Regions from separate parts of the Homo sapiens genome. Here all the other regions are linked to region 1. The links come from fine-mapping of genetic effects on gene expression. A gene starts in region 1. Each other region holds a variant in brackets. All regions are shown on one strand. Distances are between the middles of the regions. Region 1 holds the start of LINC02346 (long intergenic non-protein coding RNA 2346). Region 2 overlaps LINC02346 (long intergenic non-protein coding RNA 2346). Region 3 overlaps LINC02346 (long intergenic non-protein coding RNA 2346). Region 4 overlaps LINC02346 (long intergenic non-protein coding RNA 2346).

Evidence for each region. PIP is the estimated chance that this variant, and not a neighbour inherited with it, causes the effect. A credible set is the group of variants that fine-mapping cannot tell apart.
Region 2: its variant is the best candidate, but not a certain one, in a credible set for the expression of LINC02346 in nucleus accumbens (GTEx, PIP 0.57).
Region 3: its variant is the best candidate, but not a certain one, in a credible set for the expression of LINC02346 in subcutaneous fat (TwinsUK, PIP 0.66).
Region 4: its variant is the best candidate, but not a certain one, in a credible set for the expression of LINC02346 in subcutaneous fat (FUSION, PIP 0.72).

What each region holds. Positions count from the first base shown.
Region 1 is chr15:25,898,653-25,906,758 of GRCh38, forward strand. It overlaps LINC02346 (long intergenic non-protein coding RNA 2346), which reads left to right and starts at 3,708. Exons shown (of 5, transcript NR_040082.1): 1 at 3,708-3,914. RefSeq lists an enhancer at 1-230.
Region 2 is chr15:26,023,233-26,031,338 of GRCh38, forward strand. All of the region lies in intron 2 of LINC02346 (long intergenic non-protein coding RNA 2346), which reads left to right. Among named protein-coding and RNA genes, the nearest start is that of TRE-TTC2-2, 55 kb to the right of the region's middle. The variant T/C (reference allele first, on the strand shown) is at 4,428.
Region 3 is chr15:26,012,153-26,020,258 of GRCh38, forward strand. LINC02346 (long intergenic non-protein coding RNA 2346) reads left to right here. Exons shown (of 5, transcript NR_040082.1): 2 at 3,182-3,869. Among named protein-coding and RNA genes, the nearest start is that of TRE-TTC2-2, 66 kb to the right of the region's middle. The variant T/C (reference allele first, on the strand shown) is at 3,178.
Region 4 is chr15:25,942,724-25,950,829 of GRCh38, forward strand. The region is part of intron 1 of LINC02346 (long intergenic non-protein coding RNA 2346); the gene reads left to right. Among named protein-coding and RNA genes, the nearest start is that of LINC02346, 44 kb to the left of the region's middle. RefSeq lists an enhancer at 117-617. The variant A/ATT (reference allele first, on the strand shown) is at 5,017.

The DNA.
Region 1 (8,106 bases):
GGAAGATCAAGAAGGAATCCAGAGAACAGGGGAAACTTCACTGGACACAGATATTAATTGAGTGCATGTGTGTAATATAATTGTTTATATTAATATTACATGTATATATACATGCCCTATATATATATACACTCATATATATATATATATATACACTCATATATATATATATATATATATACACACACACAGAGTCATGTCATATAATGACATTTTGTTCAGTGATGAACACAGCCGTGGTCCTATAAGTTTATAATGGCACTAAAAGATTTCTGTTTCCTAGTGACATTATACTCATCCTAATGTCTTAGTGCAGTGCAATTACTCATGTGTTTGTGGTGATGCTGGTGGAAGTAAACCTACTGCACTGCCAGTCTCGTAAAGGTATAGCAATACAATCACATACAGTACCAAGTACTTGATAGTAAAGACTAAGTACTTGAGAAAGACTATGTTACTGGCTTACGTATTTACTATACTTTTTATTTTAGAATGTACTCCTTCTACTTATAAAAAAAATAGTTAACTGTAAAATAGCCTCAGGCAGTCCCTTAGGAGGTATTCCAGAAGAAGGCCTTATTTTTTATATATATATATTTTAATGTTTTGGGACAGGGTCTCACTCTGTTGCCCAGGTTGAAGTGCATTGGGCGATCTCGGCCATGATTCATGCATGTCATGGCCCCTGAAGACCTTTCAGTAGACAAGATATGGAGGTGAAAGGTGGTGATATCGATGATCCTGAGTCTGTGTAGGCCTAAGCTAATGTGTCTGTTTGTGTCTTCATTTTTTTTTTTTTTTTTTGAGACAGGCTCTTGCCCTGTTGCCCAGGCTGGAGTGCAGTGGTGCTAGCTCAGCTCACTGCAACCTCCACCTCCTGGGCTCAAGCAATCCTCCCATCTCAGCCTCCTGAATAGCTGGGACCACAGGTGCACACTGCCACACCTGGCTAATTTTTGTATTTTTTATAGAGATGTGGTTTCACCATGTTGCCCAAGCTGGTCTCATACTTCTGGACTCAAACTATCCTTCTGCCTTGGCCTCCCAAAGTGCTGGGATTATAGGTGTGAGCCAGCATACCTAGCTGTGTCTTAACTTTTAACGAGAGAGTTTAAAAAGGTTTTTAAAAAGTTTTTAAATAGAAAAAAAAGCTTAGAGTATTAGAATATAAAGAAACAACATATTTTGTGTTTGTGTTTTAAGGTGTTATTACAAGAGTCCAAAGTTTTTAAAAATTTAAAAGTTTGTAAAGTAAAAATGTTACAGAAAGCTAAGGTTAGTTTGTTACTGAAGAAAAAAATATTTTTTATAAATTTAATGCAGCCTAAGTGTACAGTGTTTCTAAAGTCTATAGTATTCTACAGTAATGTCCTGGTCTTCACATTCACTCACCACTCACTCACTGACTCATCCAGAGTAACTCCCTGTCCTGCAAGCCCCATTCATGGTAATTGTCTTATCCGGGTGTCCCATTCTTCATCTTTTACACTACATTTTTACTGTATCTTTTCTATGTTTAGATATGTTTGGATAGACAAATACTTACCATTGTGTTATAACTGCCTACAGTATTCAGTACAGTAACATGCTGTATAGGTTTGTAGCCTAGGAGCAATAGGCCGTCCCATACAGCCTAGGGGTGTTGGATGCTATGCCATCCAGGTTTATCTATGAAGTTTGCAGGATGACAGAATCACTTAATGAGCATTTCTCAGAGTGTATCCCTGTTGTTAAGTGACAAGTGACTGTGTATACACACACACACACGCACACACCACACGCACACACACACACTACAGGAAGATACAGCCTTAAAATGACAATGGACTGCTGTGTAAAAGGAGTTTTAGAGAAATATAATGTGTTCTTGGAATTTTGAAACATGATAAATGAAACATGAGCCAAAGGTTAGAGCAGGATAATAAATTGGAAATGGCTGAACACCAAGTTGCAAATCTGGAAGCTAAAGCTGGGGAAATCTCTCAGGACTTACTTGAAAAAGACATAAATGGAAACTCACAGAAGAACTGGAGCCAGAAGCTACGGACAGTGGTTACCTCAGTGGAGTGAGAAGGCCTGTGATTTCACTGATGGCCCTTCTGAACCATGTGAATTTCTTCCTTCACCACATGCAGACATCAGTTAATAGGACAGATTAAAGTTGCATGCTAGCTGATGGCTGCCGGGGAGGCAGGAATACTCAATTAAGCGCGGCACAGTTCTCGTGGGTTCTTGTTGAATAGTGCAAGTTGGGAGTCCGGTCTTGTTCACCGTTTCCCTCTGTTCTCTAGGAGTGGGCAACCACTCTCATGGATGGCTCATACCTATTACGTGAGCTGCCCTGTGATAACTCACTGTCTCCCTTCTGTCTCAGAAGGCCTGCCTTTCCTTTGCCCTAGTTGTGAGGCATTTGGAATTCAGCCAATCTGCAATGCTGAATGTGGAGGAGGATCCATGTGACATGGTTGGAGCCAAGGTGTTGAGCAAAGCCTCATCTGTCTGGACAAACTTCAGTCCTCACAAGCAAGCAAGCTATGCCCAAGCTTATGTGCAATGCTTTGAATGGGCAGAGGTCAGTCTGACAGTGACAGTGTGAGAACGATGTGGAGCTGGGCCTGGGTGGGGAGAAGGTGCCCGTCCTCCATGAGTCTAAGTGGAGTGTACCCTTTTGACTCACAGATCCACGTATTCCTGTCACCAGTTGGTGCATGAAGGCAATACAGTCTCCTGAGTTTCTACAATACCAGGTCTGTCATTTAGTTGTCCTTGTTTTTAAGTGAGAGTGAAGTTCACTATTCTGAGGTCCAGGGAGGGGTGAGGAATTCCAGCATTAGGTTTGGCCTCAGGAAGAGGGACTGGGAGAATTTGATAATGGGGAGTGCGGTAGGCTGAGTTGTAACATGGTTCCCAAAGTCCCCACCCTCATGTACATACTCTGAATAGCATCTCCCCTTGAGTGTGGGATACTCCTGTGAAGACAACAGGGTTTCAGTGTGAACAGGCAAAAAGGGACTTTGCAAATGTAGTGAAGGTCCCTGATCAGTTCACTTTGAGTCAATAAAAAGGAGATTATCCTGAGTGGGCTTGACCTAATCGGGTGATCCCTTAAAGGAGACAAGAGGCAGCAATAGACATCCTCCTTCTGGCCTTGAGGAAGTCAGCTGCCATATTTTGCTCTTTTTTTTTTTTTTTTCCTTTTGTAGAGACAGTCTCCCTATGCCACCCAAGCAAGTCCGGAATTCCTGGCTCAAGCGATCCTCCTGCCTCTGCCTCTATGAGTACCGGGAGAACAGGTGTGAGCCGCTGCCCAGTCATATTTTGATTGACACTCTCCAAATGTGAGAGTGGCCTCTAGGAGCTTGGAGTGACCCCTGGCTGACAGCCAGCAAGAATATACAGACCTCAGTGTTACAGCCCAGCTGGATCCTGCCAAGCACCAGTGAGCTGGAAGAGGATCCCCAGCCTCAGATGAGCCTGCAGCCTGTGCTGATGCCTGGATTTCAGCCTGGGAGACTCTCAGCAGAGGACTCGGCTCAAGGCTGTCTACAGTCCTGATCTACCAGAACCATGAGATAATAAACAGGCATTGTTTAGGTAGTGAAATGTGGTTACACATAAATAGGAACCCAGTGCAGCGTAAGATGCCCTGGCATATCAAGGGCGGTTCATGAGTGGGTGCCTTCAGCTTGGGAGGAAGCAGGCATAGGGCTGATGCATCGCAGTGTCCACATATGCAGGGAGGCTGGTTTCCTAGGAAGCCTCCCAATGAGGAAATTGTTGGGAATGTGCTGCAAGGCGCTGCCTCGCTCTGGAGCCAGACGAGAGGCCGGAGCATCCGCCCCAACATGGCTGGCTGTGTGAGCCTCAGGAACGCTGGCAGCTCTGCAAGACTCTCTGCCATCTGCAAAATGTGGGTGAGCATATCCCCCCAGCCACACAATTCTTGGGGATGGAGTGAGACAATTCTTAGAAAGCTCTAGTTGCAGTGCGGGTGCACAGGAAGGGCTCTGTGCACACTGATGCATGTTGCTCTAGCTCAAAGTGTCCCTTGAGCAGCTGGGGTGTGATCTCCAAGTGCACCCACCAGCCGGTCTCACCTGGCCTGGGCTCCGAGCAGGGGTCAACCTGAGGGCATTTCACTCCAGATCCAGCATGGGTTTGAGGAAGGGGCCAATGAGGGGCCAGTGGCCACAAAATAGCACTTGATTCTGATCATAAGCCCAGTCACTAAGAGGCGGGTAAAAAGAAATGCATTACCCATTTGACAAATTTTCTATGGTGAATGAATACAAATACTGGGTTACAATGAGCACTTGGCTAGCTGGCTAAAGGTAGGGCCCCAAATAGGGGGGCTGAATGGAGGTGAGAAGCCTGTGACCATTGCTGAGGCATGGGCAGGGACTCGGGCACACACGTGTGGGCAGCTCCGTGGTGTTAACCTCCAGCCTGGGTCAGTTGCTGGCCTGGGCTGACTGTGGTGACCACAGGCCAGGGGATATTGGGAGGGACTGAAAACCATGAAACAAAGCAGAACAAACTTGCCACTCCAAAACCTCACACACGGCAGGAAGTGGGCCAGCCTGGAGTTACTGAGGGGGCTGTGGCCGGGCACACCCTGTCCTACCTGAACCCAGAGTGTCAAAGACAAACAAAGCCAGGCAGTAGTGAGAGGGTCAGGAGAGATTTTTCACAGTAATAACCGTTGCAGTGGGGAAGAGGTTACAGTGTGAACTGAAGTCAGCTTGGATGTGTACAGAGGTGAGTGGATTTTTCCAAGGGAGGAGGGAGGGGTGAGGGAAGGCTTGCTGGAGTCAGGAAGTGAGAAATTGCAAAGCCCAGGAAGGAGGGGCCGGCCCCACTGGGCTGCTAACTGGCTCTGGTCGAAGTTAGCTCCTGATGTCCCACAGAGGCCGGGAGACAGGGGCCGTAGCTGCAGGGATTGGCTGGAACAGGGTATTTTTTGGCGGTCTTGAGTTTCCTGAGGTAGGGACTATAAGGGGGGCTGGTGTCATCCTAGGGATGTGGCCATGAGTTGCTAGATGCCATGTTAGTGTTAGCTGAAGTCTTTATAGGCCAGCGTGGAGGTATTGTTGAGAAGAGGACTCAGAGGAGCCTGGCTGGCAGTTGGTCGAGGAGAGATCTTAGTCTAGGGCCCCACACAGCCCAGGTTCCAGGGATGTGGGTCCTGGCCAAGTATCCCATGGGCTCCTGCCTTTGGCTCACTCGAGTGGGCCTCAGGGACTCGCCACCAAAAAATCTGAGACGCCAGCCTCAAGGATGTGAGGGTGTCACATCTGTCCTCCACAAAGAGCCCAAGCAAGATGAGAAACAGCTTCATGACCCCCATAATGAACAAGCCTTTTAATGTCAGGACAGCTGCAAGCCCTTCTTCAAGCTCTCGGCCTCACCTGTCTTCCTTATAACCACAGAAAATGTCACTCCTCCTCTGATTTGCCTTCTATACCATGCCCTTCCATCTGAGGCAATCTTGTGAAGCATTCCACGTGGTCCTCCTGGGCCAGCTCACCCTCATGACCCCTGGGCTGCAGGCCACAGCTCTCCCTGGCGGACCAGGAGGCTGGCATGGCAGCATGGATAGAAAGTGTCTTTTACCTAAGTCATCATTCATTAACTCCAGTTACATTAGAGATGTTTCCTGCTGGAAAACTTTCAGAATCATCTCTTTTTGAGAAAAAGGTGTGTGTATTTTTTTAAACAACAGCAATAGTCCAAGTCTGACTACTAAGAGCACATTTTTATTTTTAAAATTAGACATTGTGCTGAAAACAAGTTTATTAAAATATGATCTATAACCTAATTTTATTCTTTCTTATAGACATGGGGGTCTCAGTATGTTGCCCAGGCTGGTCTTGAACTTCTGGCCTCAAGTGATCCTCCCACCTCAGCATCCCGGGTAGCTAGAACTAGAGGCACACACCACTGTACCCAGCTATGACTTGGTTTTAATTGTCAAGGGAACCAGATTTGTGAAAGAACAAAAACAGTGGCATTTGTTTGTCTGGAAATGGGGCCATCTGGGTTCTCCATCTCTTGGGGGCTGTGTTTGGAAAGGAAGAGCTGTCAGTCTGGGTTCCAGGCCGATCCTCCCCGCAGTGGCTTTCTTCCTCTCTCGCCTGGAGGACATCTCATAGTTCTTGCCCTCAGGGTCCCCCCAGGCCGCCTTATCCTCCTGGCTTTTCATCCCCTGCAATGTGCCACTCAGCTGCTGAGCTTCCAGGCCAGGCCTGCAGTTTCCTGGGTACCCAGCATGAGTGGGGCTCTCAGCTGAAGGGTGGGTCAGGTGGTACAGGAGCCTCCATAACAGTTTGCTAAATATATGAATAAATAAATTATAAAACGTTAGTCCCCCTGCCAAAAAAAAAGCACAAAACACAGTTTGAGGTGATGTGTTTTTGCCCTTGCCTGAGGGAGTTGGGATTTACACAATGCCACCATTTGCAAACTGGGATCTACAAGCCCCAGCAAGACACAAAGTTTGCAAGGGCACAGGCAGTGTTAAGCAAGCTGTGTTCCAGAACCTAACACCATCTTCATGGGCAGGCCCTGATGGAGATGCAGTTCTTCCCCGCCTTCCTCCACAGCACCCAGCTCCCTCCCCAAGCAGATCTTTCCACCCAGGGCAATGTTGCATCAGCCCAGAGGAGGAAGGCCTCCCTGGCCATGGCCACAGCCCACCCACCAGAGGATATTTGCAGTGTTGGGAAAGTGTGAGAAAGTGAGTGACTAATGGCTGTGTTACTAATCTTCTGGCAAGTCAGATTGTTCTAGTTCTTTGCTTTCCATGAACTGAAAGAGGATCTAGTCAATTTATAAACTGATGGATTAGATCATTAAAAGTAATTTTTAGGCCGGGTGCAGTGGCTCATGCCTGTAATCCCAGCACTTTGAGAGGTTGAGGTGGGAGGACTGGTTGAGCCCAGGATTTCAAGACCAACCTGGGCAACATAGTGAGACCCCGCGTCTACTAAAAATAAAAATTAACGGGCGTGGTGGCACACATCTGTGATCCTGGCTACTCAGGAGGCTGAGGTGGGAGGACCCCTTGAGTTTAGGAGTTTGAGGCTGCAGTGAGCCATGATTGTACCACTACACTCTAGCCTGGGTGACAAAGCAAGACTATCTCAAAAAAATTTTTTTATGATCAATCTTCATGTAATTTTCAGCACATAACTTAGAAGGAGTGGAATCTTTACAACAAAACACTTTCCATTCAGATGTATTTACTCATGTAAAAACGTTTTTCGCCATGCTTACATATATAAAAAATAGGAATCCAACTGATACCGAATCATGTGTCATGCCACCGATAAGTAATATTCATCCATGGATACATAAAGTAATTTGAAAACAGTTTTAGTACCATTTATCTCGTTATAAGATGTGTTTCTGATAAGTGTATATTTTCACTATTAATAATTATCAAGTTATAATGTAGTCATTTTACCTTCATGAATTGAGTGTTAATAACCATGATAACTGGAATACATCATTTACAATAACTGGAAAAAGTTATTTAACATTTAGAGACATGTTGAAGAAAATTAAAATTGTAAGTTTTTATACATAGCTTTTGTAGCAAGAAACCTGATAGTGTGATGAACAGAAGAGTTTTAAGCATAAGAAATTGTTATAATAAAATTCTGTGGAGGAAGAGGAATGAAAACAGGAGTTGCAGTAGAAAAAATGGATACTTAAGGAGGAGATTGTTCACACACATTTTTTTTTTTTTGAGACAGGGTCTCACTCTATGACCCAGGCTGGAGTGCAGTGATGTGATCTCAGCTCACTGCTTCCTTGACCTCCTGGGCTCAAGTGATCCTCCTACCGCAGCCTCCTGAGTAGCTAAGACTACAGGCACCTTCTGCCATGCTCAGCTAATTAAAAAACAAATTTTGTAGAGACAAGGTCTTGCTGTGTTGCTGAGGTTGTTCTGGAGCCCCTGGGCTCAAGCAATCCTCCTACCTCGGCCTCTCAGAGTGCTGGGATAACCAGCGTGCGCCACCACGCCCAGCCATGTTCACACATTTTTAAATTTGGGGGATGGTGGGTATATAATTTTCAGGCTGTTTAGATTCCACTGGACAC
Region 2 (8,106 bases), 120 kb after region 1:
ATTACAGGCGTGAGCCACCGCGCCCGGCCTGTAAGTAACTCTGTTTCATTAACTTTAGGGTCCATCTTAGTTGGTAAATCATAGCGGGTTGAAGCTGTCGTTTTGTGCTGAATCAGTTCCTAGGTGAAGGTTACAAGACCAGCTGAGTCACTGTCTTGGTATGGGTTACCAGTCCAGGTGGCCACAGCTGGTCCATCAAAATGCAAGGTCCAAAAGACACTTCACATACCAGTCCTAGGTTTAACAGTAGTGACGTTCCCTACAGGAGGTTGCAATCTTGCGACCTTCGACTGCAAGACTCCTGAACCACAGTTCTAACCTTGTGTCTAATTTGTCAGTTTTACAAAGGTGGTTTCAGTCCCAGAGCAAGGAGGCGGTTAGTTTTAGGAAGGGGATGTTGTCATCTTTGTTTCAAAGTTACACTATAAACTAAATTCATCTGAAGGTTAGTTTGGCCTACGCCCAGGAATGAACAAGGGCATCCTGTGAGGTTAGAAGTAGGGTGGAATCAGCGATGTCCAATTTCTTTCACTGCCAGAATTTTTCCATGTGAGACTTCCCTCACTGCCAAAGGTGGTTTCAGAGTGGTCTAGAATGTCACAACTGTTGTGCTGAACCCGTACTGACTCCCGTAAGGATGGCAGTATGTCTGAGAGGCCAAAAAAGAAGTCCAGAGATAATAAGTGAGTCACGGGGTTTATCTGAAGAATTTACAAACACACAGGGACAGTCCAGTGGCAGTGGGCTAGACTGGAGAACTGCTACTGTTTCTAAAAAGCATGCAGTTTATATCACATTTTCACTTAGCACCTTCCACCTAGCCATCTCCACCTGGCAACCTCATTTGACCCAAAACAAAGGGCCTCAATCCTCTGTATGGCCTGCTTTCCAAAGGATGGGCCAGGGGTTTGGACATCCTTCATGGATAAGGAAAGACTCTCCAGATCTGCTACTCTTGGATTCCTTAGCTTGGGACAAGGTACACACATTCTTCTTAGGCCACAGGGTCATTCTCGGGGTAAAGTTATTGCTCTCAGGTGCATCTGCCATACAACATCCAGGTGGCTGTGCTGACAAGGTCATTTAGCCATAGGTTCTGATCCATTGCATCTGCTGAGATGAGGCAAGGTGAAGTTGTGTGAGCGGTACAGAAAGGGAGCGATTGTTGCTGCAGGAGGATAACATGGTGTCTTGCCCTGAGTAGTATCCCAGTGTGTCCACTGAGCCTGGCAGGTGCTCAGAAAACATTAGAGGAGCTGGACTTAGATGACACAGCCCATCAGCAGCATGGTCTCCGGCCTTGAGCTCTGTCACTCCTTGTTTTCTTTCTTTTCCTTTATCATTGTAAAAGTAATACTTGCTCAATAAAGGGATTTGGTAAACAGAGAAAAGTGGGGAGAAAAGAATCATGTGATCCATTTCCATTCAGTGTTTTTTTCTTTTTTCTTTTCTTTTCTTTTCTTTTTTTTTTTTTTTTTTTGAGATGGAGTCTTGCTCTGTCGCCCAGGCTGGAGTGCAATGGCATGATCTTGGCTCACTGCAACCTCCGCCTCCCAGGTTCAAGAGATTCTCCTGCCTCAGCCTCCCGAGTAGCTGGGATTACAGGCACCCACCACACCTGGCTAATTTTTGTGTTTTTAGTAGAGACAGGGTTTCACCACATTGACCAAGCTGATCTTGAACTACTAACCTCAGGTAATCCACCCACCTTGGCCTCGCAAAGTGCTGGGATTACAGGCGGGAGCCACCACACCTGGCCTTTCAGTGTTTTTTTAGAAAATTAATTTTTAAATAGGATGGTTAAAAATGTACAGTTTATACTATTTTATTTCTTAATTTTATTACTTAACAGTCTATCTTATGTTTTCAGTCTATTTTTCTAACCTTAGCATGCATGGCTGCATGGCATCCTGCAGAACAGAACTGCAAGCATGGTCACGTGTATTGTATAACATGTCCTTATGGTAGTCATAACCTGCAGAGTGACAGAGACTTTTCAGGGTTTTCTTCTATTTTCTAGGAGAACTCCAAGTTCACCTAGTATGTTTATACAATTAATTGCAGGGCAGCTACAGGATCATCTCGAGCAATGATGGCACTTCTAAAGGACCCTCTTCTTTCCTCATGAAGCAGGATTTAGCTGGAACAGAGGGCTCAAGATACGCCATCACCAAATATTCCACTTTGGCATATTCATTACTTTGAACTAAAATAAGTTAAGAATCAGCCAAAGCAGAGAAAGTGCTTTACCTCCCCCAACTGCTAAAACAAAGCAAAAAGTTCCCCTTTTGTACAGGAAATTTATACCTACAAAAACATTTCATTAGTAAAGATGGCTGTACTAGGAACAGAGATAATTTTACAACAGAGATGTTATGGGGAAGAGTCCCAATTCAGACTCCAAGAGAGGGTTCTTGGATGTCATGCAAGAAAGAATTCAGGGCGAGTTTACAGAGTAAAGTGAAAGTAAGTTTATTAAGAAAGTAAAGGAATAAAAGAATGGCTACTCCATAGGCAGAGCAGCGCCGAGTACTGCTGGTTGCCCATTTTTGTGGTTATTTCTTGATGATATGCTGAGCAAGGGGTGGATTATTCATGCCTCCCCTTTTTAGACCATGTAGGGTAACTTCCTGACGTGGCCATGGCATTTGTAAACTGTCATGGCGCTGGTGGGAGTGTAGCAGTGAGGACGACCAGAGTTCATGCTCATGGCTGTCTTGGTTTTGGTGGGATTTATCCAGCTTCTTTACTGCAACTTGTATTTATTTATTTATTTATTTATTTATTTTGAGACAGAGTCTCACTCTGTTGCCCAGGGTGGAGTGCAGTGGCACGATCTCCGCTCACCGCAAGCTTGGCATCCTGGGTTCACGCCATTCTCCTGCCTCAGCCTCCCGAGCAGCTGGGACTGCAGGTGCCTGCCACCACGCCCAGATAATTTTTTGTATTTTTTTTAGTAGAGAAGGGGTTTCACCGGGTTAGCTAGGATGGTCTTGATCTCCTGACCTCATGATCCTCCCACCTCAGCCTCCCAAAGTGCTGGGATTACAGGCGTGAGCCACTGAGCCCGGCCCACTGCAACCTGTTTCATCAGCAAGATCTTTATGACCTGTATCTTGTGCTGACCTTCTATTTCATTCTGTGACTAAGAATGCCTAACCTCCTGGGAATGCAGCCCAGCAGGTCCAGCCTTATCTTACTTAGCACCTATTCAATATGGAGTTGCTCTGGTTGAAACACCTCTGACAGAGAGACTTTTATCTGGGTAACCAGGCAATGCTTATTCACCATACATTTCCTCCCCTCTTGTTACCCTCTTGTAACCACCCAATGGGCTCACCTTGCCTGCTGCCTAGATAGAACCGATTTATCGAGACAGGGGAACGACAATGGAGAAAGAGTGATTCACACAGAGCCGGCTGTGTAGGAGACCAGAATTTCATAGTTACTCAAATCAGTCTCCCCAAGCATTCGGGGATCAGAGTTTTTAAAGATAATTTGGCACATAGGGGCTTGGGAGGTGGGGATTGATTAGGTTGGAGATGGAATCACAGGGGGTTGAAGTTAGGTTTTTTTAATGTCTTCTATTCCTGGGTGCCATGGCAGAACTGGTTGGGCCGGATTACCAGTTTAGCTAGTGTCAGCTGATCCATTGAGTGCAGGGTCTGCGAGATATCTCAAGTGCTGATCTTAGGTTTTACAATAGTGATGTTATCCCCAGGAGCAATCTGGGGAGGTTCAGACTCTTGGAACCAGAGGCTGCATGACCCCTAAATTGTAATTTCTAATCTTGTAGCTAATTTGTTAGTCCTGCAAAGGCAGACTGGTCCCAGGCAAGAAGGGGTTCTTTTCAGGAAAGGGTTGTTATCAATTTTGTTTTAGGGTCAAACCATGAGCTGAATTCCTTCCCAAAGTTAGTTCTGCCTATGCCCAGGAACGAACAAGGACAGCTTAAGGGTTAGAAGCAAGATGGAGTTGGTTAGGTCTGATTTCTTTCACTGTCATAATTTCCTCAGTTATAATTTTGCAAAGATGGTTTTACTCTCATAACATGTCTCCACTCTCCCCCAAAGCCCAAGCCCCTGCTCCTTTCTGTAGCTCAGGATAGGGAGAGCGTATAAGTCTCAGTCATCTAGCTGCTTTGTTGAGTCTCCTATGTTTGTCACACTCCCTGTGAGTACGTACATAATTAAAAGTGTTTTTCTCCGGTTAATGTGTCTTATGTCAACTTATTTTGTAGACCAACGAAAGTACCTAGAAGGATAGAAGAAAGCACTTTTCCCTCCACTGTGGTGGCTATGAAAAACAATTCCCTCTAAAATTATATCAAGATGATCACATTTCTGGAACTAAAGCTTTTTCCAAAACATTTTTTTTGGGGGGTGAGGTAACCCAGGCTGGAATAAGTGGCTTTTCATCAGGAGAGT[T/C]CATAGTGCGCTGCAGGCTGGAACCCCTGGGCTCAAACTGTCCTCCCACCTCAGCCTCCCAACTGGCTGGTGCTGTAGGCATGAGCCACCATGCCTGGCAAAAATCTGTTTCTTTTTTTTCTTTCTTTCTTTCTTTTTTTTTTTTTTGAGACAGAGTTTCCCTCTTGTTGCCCAGGCTGGAGTGCAATAGCGCAATCTCGGCTCACTGCAACCTCCGTCTCCAGGGTTCAAGTGATTCTCCTGCCTCAGCCTCCTGAGTAGCAGGGATTACAGGCACCCGCCACCACACCTGGCTAATTTTTTTTTTTGTATTTTTAGTAGAGATGGGGTTTCACCATGTTGGCCAGGCTGGTCTCAAGCTCCTGACCTCAGGTGATCCACCCGTCTCCACCTCCCAAAGTGCTGGGATTACAGGCGTGAGCCTCCACGGCTGGCACAGATATGTTTCTTAATAAACATTTTCACTGCGAGAACTTCAGTGTATCAAGGTAGAGGTAGATTTTTAATATGCTGCATAGACAAATTCTGCAAAGGAAAAATGGAAAGGGTGCCCAGGAGACAGGCAGCCACGTACCTGTGATGCGTGTCATGCACCTCTGCATGGCATCCAATCGCGCCCCCTTCTCTGGCAGGACAGGAAGGAGCCTTTGCTTCGGGGCTGCGCATCTAAAATTGCCAGAGTAGGACAGCACATATTTGCAGGCTAACACAAGCATTTCTGAAAGGAAATGCATTTGGAAACTGAGTGGTATTGAAGCATCTATTTTTCTTGCTAGCAGCACAATCTGCCACCAGGAAGGTTTTAAACACTTTCCTGACAGAGAGTGCCTGCCTGAATTTTTTGGTAATTAATCATGCATAATACTTTAAATTCCACACAGGCGGCTGGCTGAAAACCCTCCAGGGATTGCTGCATTTGCTATCCGAAAGTCAACTCCTATGCCTTCGGAGAGTGAGGAAGATCAGAGAGGGGCATTTTTGCCTGTTTTAATGTCGCCATCAGTCACCAGGCAAGTCTGCAATCTTTGCTGCATCCTTCCATGGTATCGGCACAAGCAAGGCTGTAGGTATCTAATACATATTTAAGAGTATGGGATGTAATAAAATCGGGTAATTCCTTGCCTTGGCTGGCACCACAGTATTCTCAAATAGGAAGACTGGGTGCTAGGATCTGTCTGCTGTGCTTGTGTGGGCTCACTTGAAGAGTCAGATCACATCCCTCTCTTGTTTGGCCAGCTCTGTTAGAACCATGGTGGTGGGTAATTAAATGATACACCAGCGCCTCTCACCTGACAGCTTAAGAGAACGTTCACATATATTTACATATATATTTCAGATACACATATATTTCACAGTTGTAAACCAAAAGGTATGTGAGACAGGTCTCAATCGATTTAGAAAGTTTATGTTGTCAAGGTTAAGGATGCACCTGTGATGCAGCCTCAGAAGGTCCCAACATGTGCCCGAGGTGGTCCAGGCACAGCTTGGTTTTATACATTTTAGGGAGACAAGAGATAAACACTGGTTCCTTCGGTCTGCAAAGGTAGGACAACTCCAAGTGGGGAGGGGGCTTCCAGGTCTTAGGTAGAAAAGAGAAAAACAGTTGCATCCTTTTGCGTTTCTGATTAGCTCTTCATTGAATGTGCCATTTACAGGAATAGTCGCTTACGCCTTAATCTGGCTTAGTGAAACAATAGGGCAAAGGAAGCAATCAGATTTGCATTTGTCTCACATGAGCAGAGGGATGACTTTGAGTTCTGTCTGTTGTTGACGAAAAGAGTCAAACTCTGTGAAATATCTGAAGAGATTTATTCTGAGCCAAAAATGAGTGACCACGGCCCATGACACAGCCCTCAGGAGGTCCTGGGAACATGTGTCCAAGGTGGTCGGAGTGCAGCTTGATTTTATATATTTTAGGGAGGCATGAGACATTAATCAAATACATTTGAGAAATACATTGATTTGGTTCAGAAAGGCAGGACAGTTTGAAGCAGGGGCTTCCAGGCTATAGGTGAATTTAAGCATTTTCTGGTTGGCAATCGGTTGAGTTTGTCTGAAGACCTGGGATGGATATAAAGGGAATGTTCGGGGCCGGGCATGGTGGCTTACGCCTGTAATCCCAGCACTTTGGGAGGCGGGTGGATCACCTGAGGTCAGGAGTTCCAGATCAGCCTGGCCAACATGGAGAAACCCCTGTCTCTACCAAAAATACAAAAATTAGCCTGACGTGGTGGTGGCTGCCTGTAATCCCAGCTACTCAGGAGGCTGAGGCAGGAGAATTCCTCGAACCTGGGAGCCAGAGGTTGCAGTGAGCAGAGATCACCCCATTGCACTCCAGCCTGGCAACAGAGTGAGACACTCTTGGGAAAAAAAAGAAAGAAAGAAAGAAAGAAAGAAAGAAAGAAAGAAAGAAAGAAAGAAAGAAAGAAAGAAAGAAAGAGAAAAGAAAGAAAGAAAGAAAGAAAGAAAGAAAGAAAGAAAGAAAGAAAGAAAGAAAGAAAGAAAGAAAGAAAGAAATGGAATATTCAGGTTAAGATAAAAGATTGTAAAGACCAAGATTCTTTTGAAGTCTTATAGTGGCTGCCCATAGAGACAATAAATGACAAATATTTCCTATTCAGACCTCCAAAAGGTACTAGACTCTCAGTTAATCTCTTCAGGACTGGGTGGGGGGGCCTGGAAGAAAAAGATCTAGCTATGTTGATAGAGATTTTTTACAGATGCAAATTTTCCCCCACAAAGGATGGCTTTGCAGGGCCATTTCAAAATATGGCAAAGAAACATATTTTGGGGTAAAATATTTTTATCTTCTTCTTTGTCACAAAATGTTATGCCAGAGTCACATTGGAAAGTAAGTCACGATATATAGGGTTAAATAAAACCCATCTGATGAGAATTTGTGGTTTGTAGGGCATGACTCCCCAGACTCCTTAGATAGGAATTTGGGCAAAATAAGAAAAAAATCACAACTTAGCCCTGTCTTTCATCCACTGGGAATTTTCTTGCGGGAAAATTGTGAGGGAGATATGTAGCTTTTTTGTCTTTGTAGCTGTCTTATTTAGGAATATAATGGGAGGCAGGTTGGCCGGAGCAGCTCCCAGCTTGACTTTTCCCTTAGTGATTTTGGCTTAGTGATTCTGGAGTCCCAAGGTTTATTTTCCTTTCACACATTATTACCTTCATGACAGGGCAGTGTAGTGGGCCATTTCAAAATATGGCAAAGAAACATATTTTGGGGTAAAATATTTTTATCTTCTTCTTTGTCACAAAATGTTATGCCAGAGTCACATTGGAAAGTAAGTCACGATATATAGGGTTAAATAAAACCCATCTGATGAGAATTTGTGGTTTGTAGGGCATGACTCCCCAGACTCCTTAGATAGGAATTTGGGCAAAATAAGAAAAAATCACAACTTAGCCCTGTCTTTCATCCACTGGGAATTTTCTTGCGGGAAAATTGTGAGGGAGATATGTAGCTTTTTTGTCTTTGTAGCTGTCTTATTTAGGAATATAATGGGAGGCAGGTTGGCCGGAGCAGCTCCCAGCTTGACTTTTCCCTTAGTGATTTTGGCTTAGTGATTCTGGAGTCCCAAGGTTTATTTTCCTTTCACACATTATTACCTTCATGACAGGGCAGTGTAGTGAAGGAAAAAAGGGCTTCCCTTCACCCTTCTAGGTT
Region 3 (8,106 bases), 110 kb after region 1:
CGGGACTGACTGACAGGCTCGGCTCAGCTGGGGCTGGCCACCAGAGCTCCTACATGGACCTTCCTATAGGGCTTGGCTTTTCACAGCACAGCAGCTGGGTTCCAGGAGACAGTGACCCTAGAAGAAGAGGGCAGTGCATTGCTTTCTCAACCCAGAAGTCTTCACAACATCATTCCACCACATCCTTTGACGACAAGAAAATCAGAGTCTAGCCCAGGTTCAAGGCAAAGGGAATTAGACTCCACTTTTGGAAGGACACGTCAGATGAGAAATATTGTTGCAGCTACCTTTGGAAAACAAAGCCTAGCACAATTACCTTAGAAATTCTAGCCTAACTTATTAAAACCTAAAGTTCACATCTTTATTTTCATCCTAAACACAACTCAGTTTTTCTGACTTTTGTGCTGTGATTAATTTGCCACCTATTTTGATTTTACCTTTGATCTTGTAGTTTTAAAATCTCACAGTGTTGTTGTTTTACAAATGAATATTTATATTTTATGATATTTAATATTTCTTTTGTTCTTCAATTCATATATCTCTGACCATGTATTAGAAATTCCTTTAGTTACGGTCTGTAGGTGAGAAAATTGCTCAGTGGTAGATTTGAAAATATCTTTATTTCTTCTTTGTTTTGAGAGATATTTGTTCCAGTGTATAAAATTCCCTCTGCACATAGATGATATTATGTTACTGTCTAGGAGTAGGCTCCTTTTAATTTATTCTGTGTGGGATTCATTGGTTTTCCTCATCCCGTGGATTGTGGTCTTTAATCAATTCTGGAAAATTCTCAGAATTATCTTTTAAAATATTGCCTTGATCTCATTTTCTCTCTCCTTTCCTTCCTGAACTCTGATATGTTAATACTTCTCCTGGTTTCCACCTATATCTTGACTCGTCTTTTACATGTCCTATTTCTTCATGTTTTTGTCATACATTCTGAATAATTTCTTCAGATCCAAGTCTCAGGTCACAAATTCTCTAGCCTAATGTTAAACTTTATTTTTAGTTTATATATTTTTTATTTCTACAAATTTGATTAGATTCTTTTTCAGACCTGATTGTTTAATAAAGTCTCTTGCTCCTTATTTGTATATTCAGTTCTTTTAGTTCTTTAAACATAATACGCTGGTCTTTTTTTAATTTTAAATTTTTGTGGGTACATAGTAGGTGTATGAGCTGGTCTATTTATTTATTTATTTTTTTATATGAAGTCTTGCTCTATTGCCCAAGCTGGAGTGCAATGGCGTAATCTCAGCTCACTGCAATCTCTGCTTCCCGGGTTCAAGCGATTCTCCTGCCTCAGCCTCCAAGTAGCTGGGACTACAGGCACCCGCCACCACACCCGGCTAATTTTTGCATTTTTAGTAGAGAGAGGGTTTCACTACATTGGCCAGGCTGGTCTTGAACTCCTAACCTCGTGATCCACCCGCCTTGTCCTCCCAAAGTTCTGGGATTACAGGCGTGAGCCACTGTGCCTGGCCGAGCCGGTCTATTTTTAATTCCAGGTCTGATTTGCCCAATGTATGAATTTTTGCATGTCCAACTTTTCTGTTATCCACAGGAATGATTTGATGCCTGCCTCTGTGGGTCCTTCTGCTGCCGAGCACCAGGGCACTGTCATCAGCCAGAGATGAAATTAAGCTGAATCCTCAACTTGAGGTTTTTCTGACCACCTGGGTAATTCAAATTCGAGCTGAAAACTCTCCTGAGGGCTGGCTGGTGATCATGAATTATCAGCAGGAATGTTTTTCCGTTCTATTCAGTGCTCAGGATTGATGCGGCTAGTCCTACGGACAGTGGGTACATTTCCAGTCCACCGGGACACCCCAGGAAAAGCTCCTCCCTGTCCCGCAGCGTTGGAGAGGCTGTGTCCCAGGTCCCAGTGTGGGCTGGCTCTGCACTTTTCCCTGCACCATTGGCCCTGGAATTCCAAGGCTGGAGATCCCTGGGTTTGCCAGATGCCCTCAAGGCAAAACCAGCTCATCTCCTAGGTTCCAATTTTCACTGGAGTTTTGGTCGCTGAATCTTCTGCTTCACTTGCCAAATTATTGCTGCCTGTAAAAATATCTCTCCCACATTTTTTTTCGGCAGTTTTACTTGTTTTCAGCTGGGCGATCTGCCATGGTATCTAGATTGCCTTATTGTACCAATGTAAATTTTGGAAGACTGCTGGGAAAACAGTCAGCAAGCCTTAGTTTCTTATGAGAATGAAATTTCAAAGTACAATTGGATCTCCATATCTGTGGGTTCTGCATCCACCGATTCAATTGCAGGCTGAAAATAGTCATAAATAAAAATAAAAAATAATAGGACAATAAAACATAATAAAAGTAAAAATATAGTATAACAAATATTTGCATAGCATTTATATTGTATTAGGTATTGTAAGTTATCCACAGATGACATAAAGTATATGAGAGCATGTGTGTAGTTTATGCACAAATGCTACATCATTTTACATAAAGAGCTTGGGCATCTGCAGATTTCGGTATGCGCTAGGGTCCTGGAACCAATCCTCCCTCGGTACTGAGGGATGACGTTCTACATTAAATTTTAATAGGTAATGCAGCATTTCCTACTGTCTGTCTTCCCATTCATAATGGTCCATGACAGTAATAACCATCGTTTGCAAATAAGAAAGACAACGCTGGGTATTAATCATTTTTAAAATAACCTCTTATGCGGCCTGCTCTATGTTTGGCTACATGGAGAGGGATATCATTGGCTGGAAGTGTTTGACAGGTAGATGATTCTTAGGAACTCTGAGTTTGTAGGTTTGTCCTGTTAAATGCTCTTAGTCGGTCACATTTGTAATTAGCTGGAACTTTCTGTTTTATGTCTAAAAAGTCCTTCGATAATTACACTTGGAATAAAGGTTTGCATTTTTTAAAAATTGAGATCATGGAAAGACATATCAATTGCAAGAGTTGTATAAAGTCGAATTGACTGAAATTTACCTCACAACTAAAAATAACTAATTTCTTTACCAAAAGAAGCCCACCTATTTGTATTTTATTTCCTGTTTCTGTATAACTACATACAAACATAATAAACATACTAAATATAATAAATTAGTAAACACATAAACATAGTAAAATTAATGCCAGTTTACTGCCATATGCTGCGTAGGAGTAACAGATGCATCTGCCCAACCTTTTTTTTTTTTTTTCCTTT[T/C]CAGCCCAAAAACTACTTAAAAATTAATCATATCAAAACAAGAGCATCCATGAACCAACTTCTGAGAATTGCTGTTGCTGAGAAAGGCCTAGTGAGCCCCTGTTTCCTCAGGCCACCTTCCTCTTCCTCCCATTGCCAAGGGCTCCTGTCGCCCCCGTCTGCGTTCTCCTGCCTGGCGCTCTGTCACCTCCTGTGGAGGCCCCACGTGTTCATCTGAGGGCTGCTGCTGCCCTTCCAGTATTATCCACACCTGCCATTATTACTGGGTCTTGCTCTCTGACAAAGGGGCTACAGCGCTCCTTCCTGGTACACATGCAGCCCTCCTGCCCTTGCTCAAGGACCGCACCTCAACAGGGCACCTGCTCTCATCTGGCCATCGCCTCGGCATAGGTAGCTCAAGATAGATGTTCAGCCCCAAGCCTCATGGCTGACTAACCCTGTGGAACTTAAAAGTTCAAAGACAGGGATGCCTGGATTCTGTCTCTGCCTCTGCACGTGTGTCTGTGCAGGCATCCGAGCTGACCGGCCAGCTTCCCGCTGGTGGAGGTGGGAGGCATAGGCTGCTTCTACACGCCCAAAGCCTACCCACTACAGAGTTACTTGCAGTCACACATGCTGACTAAGGGAGGAGAGCAACTCCAATCAAACGAAGCTAAGGAAGATAGCACACAAACTGGCAAGAAATTCCTGAGGTTTGCTACTTCCTATGATGGGGACAAATTCAAATGATACAGCTTTGAGAGAAAGGTGTTACATGGAACATAGGGTGCCTGCTGTGAGTTGCTTTTAGAGGTGAAAGGAGTAGATTCGCACAGACAGCTGCAGGAGGGACAGGCGGACTCCACCATCATTGGTGGAGGGGCCGGAGCCGAAGCAGCCCCCCAGGGAGTTGGTATTGCCTAGGGAAATGAACGTGGGAGAGAAAAATCCTGCCATTCAAAGGATGGTGATCCTTGTCTCCACACACCCTCACCTACCCCTGCCAAAGCAGCAGCTATTCGTTTGTTGTCACTGTTGCACTCTTCCAGTGACCTAAAGCAGCAACTTCTAAATGTGTAATGGAAAACAAGCAGTGCAGCTCAACAGCTTGTGGTTTCTGGGGTCTCTGCAATTGAACTAGGCTATCTGCTCTTTGAGCCTGGTTGCTAACCTGTGTGCTTCGTGCTCCACGTACTCCAAATGCAGGGAAGGGCAGGGTTACTCCACGCTCCTGGGACTGAACTAACGCATATCACGGAGAACAGAAGACTGGCTTCTTCGTGGTTGTTGGAGACAGAGTCTGGCTCTGTCACCCAGGCTGGAGCACAGTGGCACTATCTTGGCTCACTGCAACCTCCACCTCCCGGTTTCAAGCAATTTTCTTGCCTCAGCCCGAGTAGCTAGGATTACAGGCATCCGCCACCATGCCTGGCTAATTTTTTGTGTTTTAGTAGAGACAGGTTTTCACCATGTTGCCCACACTGGTCTCAAACTCCTGAGCTCAGGCCATCTGCCCTCCTCAGCCTCCCAAAGTGCTAGGATTACTGGTATGAGCCACCGTGCCCAGCCAGAACCCTGGCTTCTCATCATCAGGAAAGAACTGATCAGACAGAACCAATCCAAAGATTCAGTGAGTTGCCCAGGTGGTTTACAAGGACATGCAATGTTTGGGAATACGTGGCGTGAAATGCAGATTTGCCAGAGCCCAGAGAGCCGCAACCAGTACAGTTGCAGATAAAAGATTTTCAGAGGCCAGATTTTCAGCGCTCTGCAGTTTTAAAAACCAAATGCACATCTTTCTTTAGATTTGAATAAATACACATTTTGGAAAACACAAGCAACACGGCTGGGATGCATCTTAAAACAACATGACGTGAACTCCACGAATCTGAACAGAATTAAAACCTTTGCCCTTTCTGGTTTGAAAGCCTTGCGCTCATGCTAAAAGTGCAGTGGAGTGTGCGCACTCACACCCAAACTCTCCCCCACACGTACACTAATACACACTCAGGCCCACTCACCGGAACACATTCAGGCTCACAGTCACATACTGTGTCCAGCATTGAAATCCCAGTGGGTTTTTGGTCTTGCTGACTTCAAGAATAAAGTCGTGGACCCTCGAAGTCAGTATTACAGCTCTTAGAGATGGCCTGTCTGGAGTTCTTTCCTCCAGATGTTCAGATGTGACCAGAGTTTCTTCCTTCTGGAGGGTTCCAGGTTTTGCTGACTTCATGAGTGAAACCGCAGACCTTTGCAGTGAGCGCTACAGCTCTTAAAGGTTGTGCCTCAGGTAGCACCTCTGGCGTTGTTCCTTCCTCCCAGTGGGTTTGTGGTCCCGCTGGCTTCAAGAGTGAAGCTGCACATCTTCCTAGTGAGGGTTACAGCTCTTAAATGTAACACAGACCCAGTGAACAGCAGCAAAATTTATTGCAAAAAGCGAAAGAACAAAGCTTCCACATCACAGAAGGTGACCCAAGCAGATTGTTGCTGCTGGCTGGGGGTGGCCAGCTTTTAGTCCCTTATTTGACCCCACCCACATCCTGCTGATTGGTCCATTTTACAGACTGCTGATTGGTCAATTTTTACAGAGTGCTGATTGGTGCGTTTATAATCCTTTAGCTAGACGGAAAAGTTCCCCAAGTCCCGACCGGACCCAGAAGCCAAGTCAGCTTCACTTGTCAATACTCACATTCACACTCTGATGCTCTCGGACCTGAGGCCGGGCAGCATCCCTAGCAGCATGACTCCAAGGGCAGTCGGTCCGTGAGCCAACTGGCAACACTGGGGGGCACCAACTGTGTGCCAGGCATTGGGCTAAGGGCCAGGGAGATAGTGTTGCATGGACTAGAAGTGGTTTATCTGTGGCCTAACAGAATTACAGGGAGGACAAGCATTAAAGAAAGAGTGACAAGTAATCAAATGTATCATTACACGTATGTGACAGGCCAGCACGGAGCATGTGGTAATGAATTCAAGAGTGTGGGGAAGGTTTCCCCCAGAATGTACAAGGTCTTGGTGTCTCCATAAGAAGCGAGTGTTGAGATTTGAGGGGGCCTTGAATAGTACTGGACAGTCCCGGGATAGCCTTGGCCAACCGGCTATCTCCCCACTTTACTTCTTGCCTGTGGTTTGCAGAGTAAGTGTGGCGTGTGCTGGGAATGCAATATCCTGAGACAGGGAGAAACTGCCCAGAACAGTGGGCCTTGTTCCTGCCCCTCCTAGGGAAGGTGATATCTTGGGGAGGGGCTGTCTTAGACAGCCCAGGCTTAGTTTCTCTCTCTCCCGGAAGCAGCACGTCCTTCAAAGCTGTTAAAATAAAAACTTCAGCTAGACGAATTAAATTGAAAGGAATTTAATTGAGCAATGAACAATTTGCGAATCGGGCAGCCCCCAGATTCACAGCAGATTCAGAGAGACGCCAGGGGTGTCTCGTGGTCACAACAAATTTATAGACAAAAAAAGGGAAGTGACAAACAGAAATCAGCAGTGAGGTACAGAAACAGCTGGATTGGTTACAGGTTGGCGTTTGCCTTGTTTGAGTAGTTTGAACACTCAGCAGTCTGTGAGTGGTTGAAGTATGGCTGCTGGGATTGGCCAAGACTTAATATTGTTACAAGCACATACTCCTTAGTTAGGTTTTCAATCTTTGCCTATTAAGCTAGGTTATAGTTCATCCACAAGGACTCAAATATAGAAGTATGGAGTCCTTCTCAGGCCATATTTCGTTTGCTTTAGCAAAGCTTTTCCTAGTGAGCCACGTGTCCCCTGAGTTCTAGAACCCAGGGTGGGCTGCCTGCCAGGTTTCCTCAGCTGTAGTGGAAGCGGGGCAGATGAAGTCGAGACTCCATCTGCTCTGGGAAGGCTTCTTGAGCCTTGGGGGACTGGCTCACAGTGGAACCTAGTCTTCTTTCGTCCCCTGCTCCCTATCTGTGAGTAATAAACCTATTTCCTATAACCAATTGTGAGTGTGTTCTGTCTCACTCGTCTTGGGCAGTTGGTAGCATTGCACTCCAGGGAGCAGAATTGCTTGGACTCCTGTTTCTGATGGTTGCTCTCCTCCATGCAGTGGAGTCCTCCCTTGGGATTGGATTGGTTGTTGGTGAACCTGTTTCACAAATAGAGAGTGGACAGAGGAAGGGGCTGCAGGGAGATCACAGCTGAGGTGGTGGCCCCGGGGGTTCCCACTGCTGGAAGGCTGGTGGTGGTGGCAGATGCAGCCTGTGTGATGAATGGCAGCCATGATGCCCACCGCCCCTGTGCTTTGATTTTGTGAGTTGCCCTCACCTAATGCCTCATCGCACGACACCTTTCTCTGCAAACAGTGGCATCCTCCAGCTGTGTGGTGGGACTGGGAGGTCCTAAAAGCTGGGTGTTGAATACTTACTGATGTGACAGCTGACCACTGTGGTTGGGAGGTGTCCTTTCTCTCAGTGAGAATAATTTGAGAATAATCAAAGCCTGCTTGAAAGATGTGCCTATTAAATGAATAAATCTGCTTTCATTCATGGCTCAGCTATACACTCAACTGTAAGGTACGAGGCAATTTATGTTTCTGCCTTCAAGCAACTCTGCCTAGCAAAGCAGATTAGGTATGTGAACATGGTCCCAGTCCATTTTGTGCTGCTATAACTGAATGCCACAGACTAGATAATTTATAAAGAAAGGAAACTTATTTCTTACAATTCTGGAGGTTTGGAAGTGCCAGGTTGAGGGGCTTCATCTGGCAAGGGCCTTCTTGCCATGTCATCTCATGGCAAAAGGTGGAAGAGCAAGAGAGTACTCACTGCAAGAGATGGGGAGGGTCTGAATTCAACCGTTTTTGTCAGGAACCCACTCGCATAATAGTGAACCCACCTCCATCATGATGCAATGAATCCATCAGAGGGCAGAGCCCTCATGACCTAATCACTTCCTAAGTCCCCACTTTTCAACATTGTTGCACTAGGAGTT
Region 4 (8,106 bases), 44 kb after region 1:
AAAAAAAAAATCACGCAGATCACAGTTGTGACTTTAGCTTTTTTTTTCCTGGGCATGGCAGCTGGGCAGAAAGGAAAAGCCTGGGCACTGCCTGGACATACCAACCCTGGAAAACGACAACCGCGGACAGTTCCCCAGACCTGAGACAGAGCTTTCCTCAGCTGGAAAGCCAGAGGAATACTACCTGCCGCTCCGCCTTCACCTGCGGCCCCATCTCCGTTCTAAGGCAAACTCTGACGGGCACTAAATTGGTCCTGTTCTCAGGCTAGGATAGGACAGATGACCCAGTTGCAGGCCCCAGCCTGTCCCTGGCCAGGCCTTTGTTACCACCCAGGCAACATCTTTTGAGACGAATCTTCCCTGACACTGCCGTGAGGGCCCATTCTGCAGTGCTCCTGGAACCCCACCTTTACCTGAAATTGAAAAAGAATCCTGTCCACATCTTGCAGTAATGCTGCCTGCTCCATGTACACCCCACCCCACACGTGAGGGTCCTGTCTGCTTTTGGGGGTCTGGCAGAAACCTTCATGGGCTTCTGGGAGAGGAACGGAACCTCCACTGTGGCTGGAGGCGCTGGAAAGCCTCCCTTAAGAGAGACTGCAGTGTGTTATGTGCTCACGTGCCCTCCTGAGTCATAAGGTTGTCCGAGCAAGTGGTGCTGCTTGTTCCCACTTTGCTCAGATGCACACCCTCTTTTCCTTCAATTCCTGAAGCTGAAAGATGGAAACCCAGCTCTCCCTCCATGTCCAGTATCCCACCTCCACACAAGAGACCACATTGAAATATTTAAACGTGACATTTCCAAGGTTTTGCACAGAGCCCAAGGGGAAGGATCTTAGCGTGTCTAGAAGTAGTGTGGTACTTGCTCTCACTGACTTTTAAGAATGAAGCCATGGCCCCTCACGGTGAGTGTTACAGTTTTTAAAGTTTCATGTCCCCAGTTCATTCTTTCAGATGCTCAGGTGTGTCCAGAGTTTTCTCCTTCTGGTGAGTTCCTGGTGTTGCTGACTTCAAGAGTGAAGCTGCAGACCTTGGCAGTGAGTGTTATAGCTCTTAAAGGTGTTATAGCTCTTAAAGGTGGCAGATCTGGTGTTCCTCCTTCCACTGGGTCAGTGACCTTGCTGACCTCAAAAATAAAATCGCAGACCTTTGTGGTGAAGTTACAGCTCATAAAAGAGCCGTGGAACCACACAGCAACCAGCAGAAAAGCGAAAGAATAACACCTCTACAGCGGTGAATAAAACGGGAATGGTGGCTGCTATCGGTACGGGCGGCCTGCTTTTATTCCTTTATTTGGCCCCACCCACATCCTGCTGATTGGTCATTTTACAGAGAGCTGATTGGTCCATTTTACAGAGAGTTGATTGGTCCTTTTTACAGAGAGCTGATTGGTCCGTTTTGACAGAGTGTTGATTGGCATGTTTACAAACCTTTAGCTAGATTCACAGTGCTGATTGGTGCATTTACAATCTTTTAGCTAGCCAGAAAAGTTTTCCAAGTCCCCACCCATCCCAGAAGCCAGGCTTCATCTCTCACTGGTACTCGCTGCCCAACGTTGCCGTACCTAGCCTGGGCACTCCAGCAGCCCAGAGGAAGCAGAGGAAAAGAGAGGAAGCAACAAAGAGAGGGAAACCCGCTATCGTAGCCAATGACCCCTCCAAGAGGGAAAGGCAGTCCACACAGAGGACCCTGCCTCTGATGAAGCCCAGCAGCAGCCAGTGGCACGGAGTGCGGGGCCCAGTGAGCCGGGACCCACCACGCCGGGACCCACCCTGAACCTGCGCTGGCCAGCCAGCGCTGCCCGGATCTCCTGCCCTTCCCTCGCCCTCCACACCTCCCCGCCAGCAGAGGGAGCCCACTCGGGCCTCCGCCAGCCCCAGAGAGGGGCCCCCAAAGCGCAGCTGTGGGCTGAAGGGCTCCTCCAGCGTGGCCAGGAGGCCGAGCAGACGCCCAGAGCAAGCGAGGACTGTTAGCAGGTTGTCATCTCTCAAGAGCTAAGAACAAAAATGAGATAACCTGTGTGGGCTGGCCTCTCTTGTGGGAGCTTTCCCAAGCCAGGCTAGAGTCTCTGGGATGTGGATCCATGTGGAGGGAGAAGGACTTTTACCCCTTCTCATCTGAGAGGACCTTCCTTCTGAGTTTTTTTTTTTTTCCTGAGGGTGTTTATTTCTCAAGACCATGGACCCCATTCAGTCCTCATTGCGCTGTGGTGGTCTGTGTCCCACGCCTTCCGAGCGGCCTCAGATGCCAGAATGTGAAGTCAACACAACCAGAGCAGTTGTCCTGGGAGAGTTAAGGGTCTGCTCTCAATCACGGTGGGGCAGGAGGTAAACTTTCAGGCGGTTTTTTTTTTTTTTTTTGAGACGGAGTCTTGCTCTGTCGCCCAGGCTGGAGTGCGGTGGAGCCATCTTGGCTCACTGCAAGCTCCGCCTCCTGGGTTCAGGACTTTCAGACGGTTTTTTTTTTTTTTTTTTTTTTTTTGAGACGGAGTCTCGCTCTGTCGCTCAGCCTGGAGTGCAGTGGTGCGATCTCGGCTCACTGCAAGCTCGGTTTCAGGCGGTTTTTATAGGCAAACTCCTGTGTTTGCTTTTTCTTCCCTTTCTTTGCTGTTCCTAAGCGGGTTCCTCAACTTGGGAGAGAATGTGAAGGTTGGGGAGGGGGTGTAGTTTGCTGTTTGGGAATGATTCTGCTATATGGGCCTTTCAGCTCATGTCAGGTGGAGAGAAAGCCAGCTCTGAAATTTCCAGGCAGGAGCTACAGGCTTCTGCACAGGTGAGGGGAGATGCTGGTCGGTCCCAGGAGCAGCTGTGGCCTGCAGTTTCTATATCCCCAAGGTGGTGGGAGGGCCTGAGAGGGAATGGGCCTGAAGGAGCTGGAGGCCAGGCCCAGGGATCCTGCAGGCTTGTCCCACGTGATGGGACACCTGGCCTGGCATAGCCCTGTGTGAGCAGTGGGCGGAGGGCAGGGCAGTTCTCAAAATCAGAGACTGAACCTCCTTCCTGTCAGTAGAGATTGGGACGTCTATTCATTTTGTGGAAAATACTTAGAGAAAAATTAAAGGATGGCAGGCTCTGTCATGAGTGTCCCACCTGTGCTGCTGCACAGAGCTCAGCCCTCAGAGGGTTCCTGCTGTGTTCAATCCTCTCCTGTTGGTGTCTTAAATTTCACAATGACTTTCGCAAAGTGTCTCTGCGTTTCCACTTTGCACAGGCCCTGTAGATCCTGCAGCCGGGTCTGCTGGCTTGCTATTTCTTGCATAGTTGAGTCTGGTTTCAGGCAACGCTTGGCACCTGGCAACTATGTATTGACCACGACTGTGGCTCCTGCACAGGCCCTTTGCTGACAGTCTCTTTGGCCTTCCCACTCTGCGGGGAAACTGAGGCTGAGAGTGGGGAAGGCTTGACCAGTGAGGCCCACTCCTCCATGGTGACCCGAAAGCTCGTTCTCTCCTTGCAGAGCTGAGCCTGAGCATCCTCACATTTGCCTGCATTTGTTCCAGGGCCTTTCCCTGGGAGTTTCCAAGCTCCAGGTGGGCAGGAGGCCATGGGCGGGGCCTTTCTGCACAAACGTCTTTTCTTTTTAGTGTCTGCCCTTAAAGGGAGGCGGCTAACAATCTCCGCTCCTCACCTCCTCACCAGATCCCCGGCTCCATGCTGTCGCTTCCTGGGAGAGGCTCAGGCCAGGACACAGAACCCACACCCCACGGCCCGGACCGCGCAGAGCGTCCCCTCCACATAGGAGCGCCCCTTCTAGGAGGGCTGCCGCCCTCCTGCCCAAGCCCTCCAAGACAGGAAGGAAGCAGAACCTACAGAGGATCAGACAACAGGCTCAGGACAGGAAGTGCCGGGTCGGATGCTTCCTCCAGCCCGTGTATCCTGAGACCAGTGCCATGTGGGGCCGCCAGAGTCCTGCCTGGTGCCCAGCACTCCTCTTCCTGGAAACGCATCCCTGTTTAGCGTAGCAAAAATGGGGAGCTAGTAAACCTCGTGTCATGGGCTATGAATGGAGACATAAAACACTGAAAATTCTACTACTGCGAAAGTGAAACAGTCTTGCTCCAAATATGGCCTTGACTAAATTAATTATTAAAATATAAAGGGAAACAACTTCCTTTCACATACTTGGTTGAGAAAGCAACTAAAAAATTTATTTCTTCTCCCATGAGAAACACTACCTTTTAAGATAAAATTTATTTTCTGTATATTTGCATTAAGAGAAAATATGAAAATATTTAATTGACATTTTTTATTAAAAGACTATCAGCATTGAAAGACAAATTTCACAGGAAAAGCATTGAATCATTAAGTTTTGTAGTCACAAAGGTAAGTATAATTTGCTTAATGCTGCCCTCAGTTTACAATGGGTCTTTAGTATTTTCTAAGCTATAATGTGAGTTTGCCAAAATATAGCATTGGTTTGCTACATAGAATTTGCTCAGTGATAAAACACAAAGGAGTTACTTATGTTAAAATGTAAATAATAAATTTATGCAAAATTTCTGAAAGTATACATTGTAAAGACAATAAATCTTTCCATTAAATTAGTGGGAAAGGAGCTCAAAACCCAGCCGGGTGATTCATTATTTTAATGACTTCCTGCTTTATTGCAAAACCTCTCTGTTCATTCGGTGTTGGCAGTTTGAGCCCCTGTTAAGGATTTAGGCTCACAATGGAGCTTCTATAAATTTCCAGATCTCTGTCATGCTGGCATGTAGGTCATTCTCCTTTTGGAATGATGAGGAGGCTGGAAAGCGGTTGCTCCAAGGGAAGGGGGAATTTTTCAAACCCGAGCTGTCCAAGCTCAGCATGAATTGGAGTGGGCTGCTGACTCAGGGGCTAACAGAGGCAGCCAGGAAACATGCAAATGTGCAATCCCTTCTGCCAGGTCTGTCCCAGCAGGTGTCACTAAAAGGCAGCCCTGTGTGCTTCTGTCACTGTGGCAGCCTTGACAAGGAAGGTGGAAGGGAAAAGAGACCCAGTGCTGAACTCCAAGCAGAGATGGGGCTTTTCTCTCTGC[A/ATT]TTTTTCCCCTCCCCTCCCAGCCTGCATTTCCAATAACATATTGATTTACATTTGTATTATGAAACAAAAATGGTTGTAAGCAGCTGTTCTTTCCTTTTACACACAATGCTAGCTCCTATTTACATTCCTAACTGAACAATGTCTAAAGAGGTACTTAAACTGACATGAATCACAGATGATCTTATGACCAAATGCTTAGTGCAAAAAAACACTTCAAATTGCAAGAGGAGTCCCTCTAAATATAGAAAGGACCAGTATTTTAAGAGATATGTTAACTAAAATGTGGCGATGTAAGGAGTAGAGCAGGAAGAACCTTTAGGTCCAAAACTTACAAGTCAATTTCATAGTTTCCATGGTCCTCCCTCTGGCATCTGTTTTCTGTACAATGGAGGTAACAATAGTAGCTATTCCAGAGCAGGAAAAGGCTTAGAGCAGTGCTAGAATACTGTCGTGGCTATATAAAGTTTAGCCATTTGTGTATCATAACAAATCTACAGTGTATTTTTTTATTGGTAGTCAATAATAGATTTCTTTTGGAGAAGTAGCAGCCTCCTGTCTGGGGACACCTGCAGTTCCCACTAAGTGAACACTGGTGTCTGCTAACTTTTGCCCCTATTTCTGTCAATAATTACTGTCAAGCTGTTCCTTGATTTAGCAATTTTATTTACTTTCTTTTTTTTTCTTTCCCTTTTCCTGAGACAGAGTCCCGCTCTGTCGCCCAGTATGGAGTGCAGCAGCGCCATCACAGCTCACTGCCACCTTGACCCCCGGGCCCTCGGGCTCAAGCAATCCTCCTACATCAGCCTTCAGAGTATCTGGGATACCCGTGCGGCCCACTATGCCTGGTTAATCTTTGTGGTTTTCGTTTTGTTTTTCCATTCCGGGTCTTGACTGGGAGTGTTGGCTCACGCCTGCAATCCCAGCACTTTGGGAGGCTGAGGCAGGCGGAGCACGGAGACCAGCCCAAACAGTATAGAGAAACCCCATCTCCACCAAAAAAAAATAAAATAAAAATACAAAATTAGCCGGGCATGGTGGCTCACGCCTGGAATCCCAGCCACTTGGGAGGCTGAGGCACGAGGATCACTTAAACCCGGGAGGCAGAGGTTGTGGCGAGCTGAGATCGTGCCACTGCAACAAGAGATCCAGCCTGGGCGACAACAGTGAAACTCTGTCTCAAAAATAAATAAATAAATGAAAAGAAACAGACCAGGTTTCACCAAGTTGCCCAGGCCAGTCTGAAACTCCCAAGCTCAAGCGATCCGCCATTCTCGGCTGTCCAAAGTCCTGGGATTACACTGTGAAGGTTAATTTTATATGCCAACTTGACTAGGCCACAGGGTGCTCAGATTAAACATAGTTTCTGGGTGTGTTTGTGAGTGTTTCCAGATGACATTAGCTTTTGAGTCAGTGAATTCAGTAACATAGATGGCCCCATGGAGATGGGCATCATCCAACTTGGTGAGGGCTTGAGTAGAACAAAAGGAGGAAGGGGGAATTTGCCCCCTTTCTTTCTACCTCTTTGGGTGTGCTGGGACATCCCATCTTATCTTCTCCTCCCCTGGGACTGGGATGTACACCATCAGCTCTCCTGGTTCTCAGGCCTTCTGACTTGGACAGAATTAAATCACCAGTTTTCCTGAGTCTTCCAGCTTCCAGATGGCAGCTTCTTTGCCTTCATAATCATGTAAGCCAGGACCCCATAATAAATCTCTTTTTAAGAAAATGTGGCACATATACACAATGGAATACTATACAGCCATAAAAAGGAACTAAATGATGTCCTTTTCAGCAACATGGATGCAGTTGGAGGTCATGATCCTAAGCAAACTAACACAGAGACAGAAAACCAAATACTGCATGTTCTCACTTATAAGTGGGAGCTAATAATTAAGTCCTAATTCCTAGAACCTGTAGATATTACCTCATTTGGAAAAAGCATATTTTCAGGTATGATTAAGTTAAAGATCTTGAGGAGAGATTATCCTGGATTGTCTCCGTGGGCATTAAATCCTGGCACATATATCCTTATAAGAGGGAGATAAAGGAGATTTAACTTCAGACAGAAGAGGAGGAGGCCCTGTGACCAAGAAGGCAGAGCCTGGAGTGGTGGAGCTGCAAGACAATGAATGCCAGCAGCCATCAGAAGCTGAGGAAGTCAGAGGATGGATTTTCCCCTCAGCCTCTGAGAGCATTGGCTCTGCTGATACTTAGATTTCAGGCCAGTGATACTAATTTTGGACTTCTGGAATCCAAACCTGTGAGAAAATATAAATTTCTGTTGTTTTGAGTCATGAAATTTTTGGTAATTTGCTATAACAGCCACAGGAAACTAATATACATGTTTACCTGGGTCCAGTGTGTCCTGTGACTCCTGCTTTCCTGGGACAGGCAGGCTGCGCCATGCCTGCTGGCCACCCTCCTTGGTGCTGGACGCTGCAGGCTGCTCCATGTGTGTTGGCCATTTCCTTTGGTGCTGGACAGCACTCACATGAAATCCACTGGCCCTGTGAAAAACACCTGCAAATGTTACCAGGACAGGGGTTAATTCTTCTGTTGGCAACTCTTGGTATTGCTTATGCCTTAACATCTGTGCCTCCAATATCCCTTCTCTCTGCCTTCATTGAAGCCAGGAAAGCAGTCACCTTTTGCCTTTCTTTGCCTCTCAGCAAGTGGCATGTCTCCATGTCACTTTAAGCATCAAGCACACAGAGCCCAATAAGATGCTGAGAAGTATCTGCCTACAAGGTGCTGGAGACATTCTGAGCCCGGTATCTCCAGGGGTCAGGAAAACAGCTACAGGAAACCTAAAGTTCAAAATGCTGAAGTGAAAAATGGGTGATCACAAAAGGGAAACACAAGCCCCTTCTTTTAAAAATATTATGGTGATAATGCACAACATAAAATTTACCATATTAACCATTTGTAAGTATACAGTGCAGTAGTGATAAGTATATACATTTGTTGAGTAATGAGTTTCTAGAACTTGCTCCTCTTGGAGAACTGAAACTATATCCACTCTACAACAACTCCCCATTTCTCTATCCCCTGGCTTCTGGAAACAACCATTTTATTTTCTGTTTCTATGA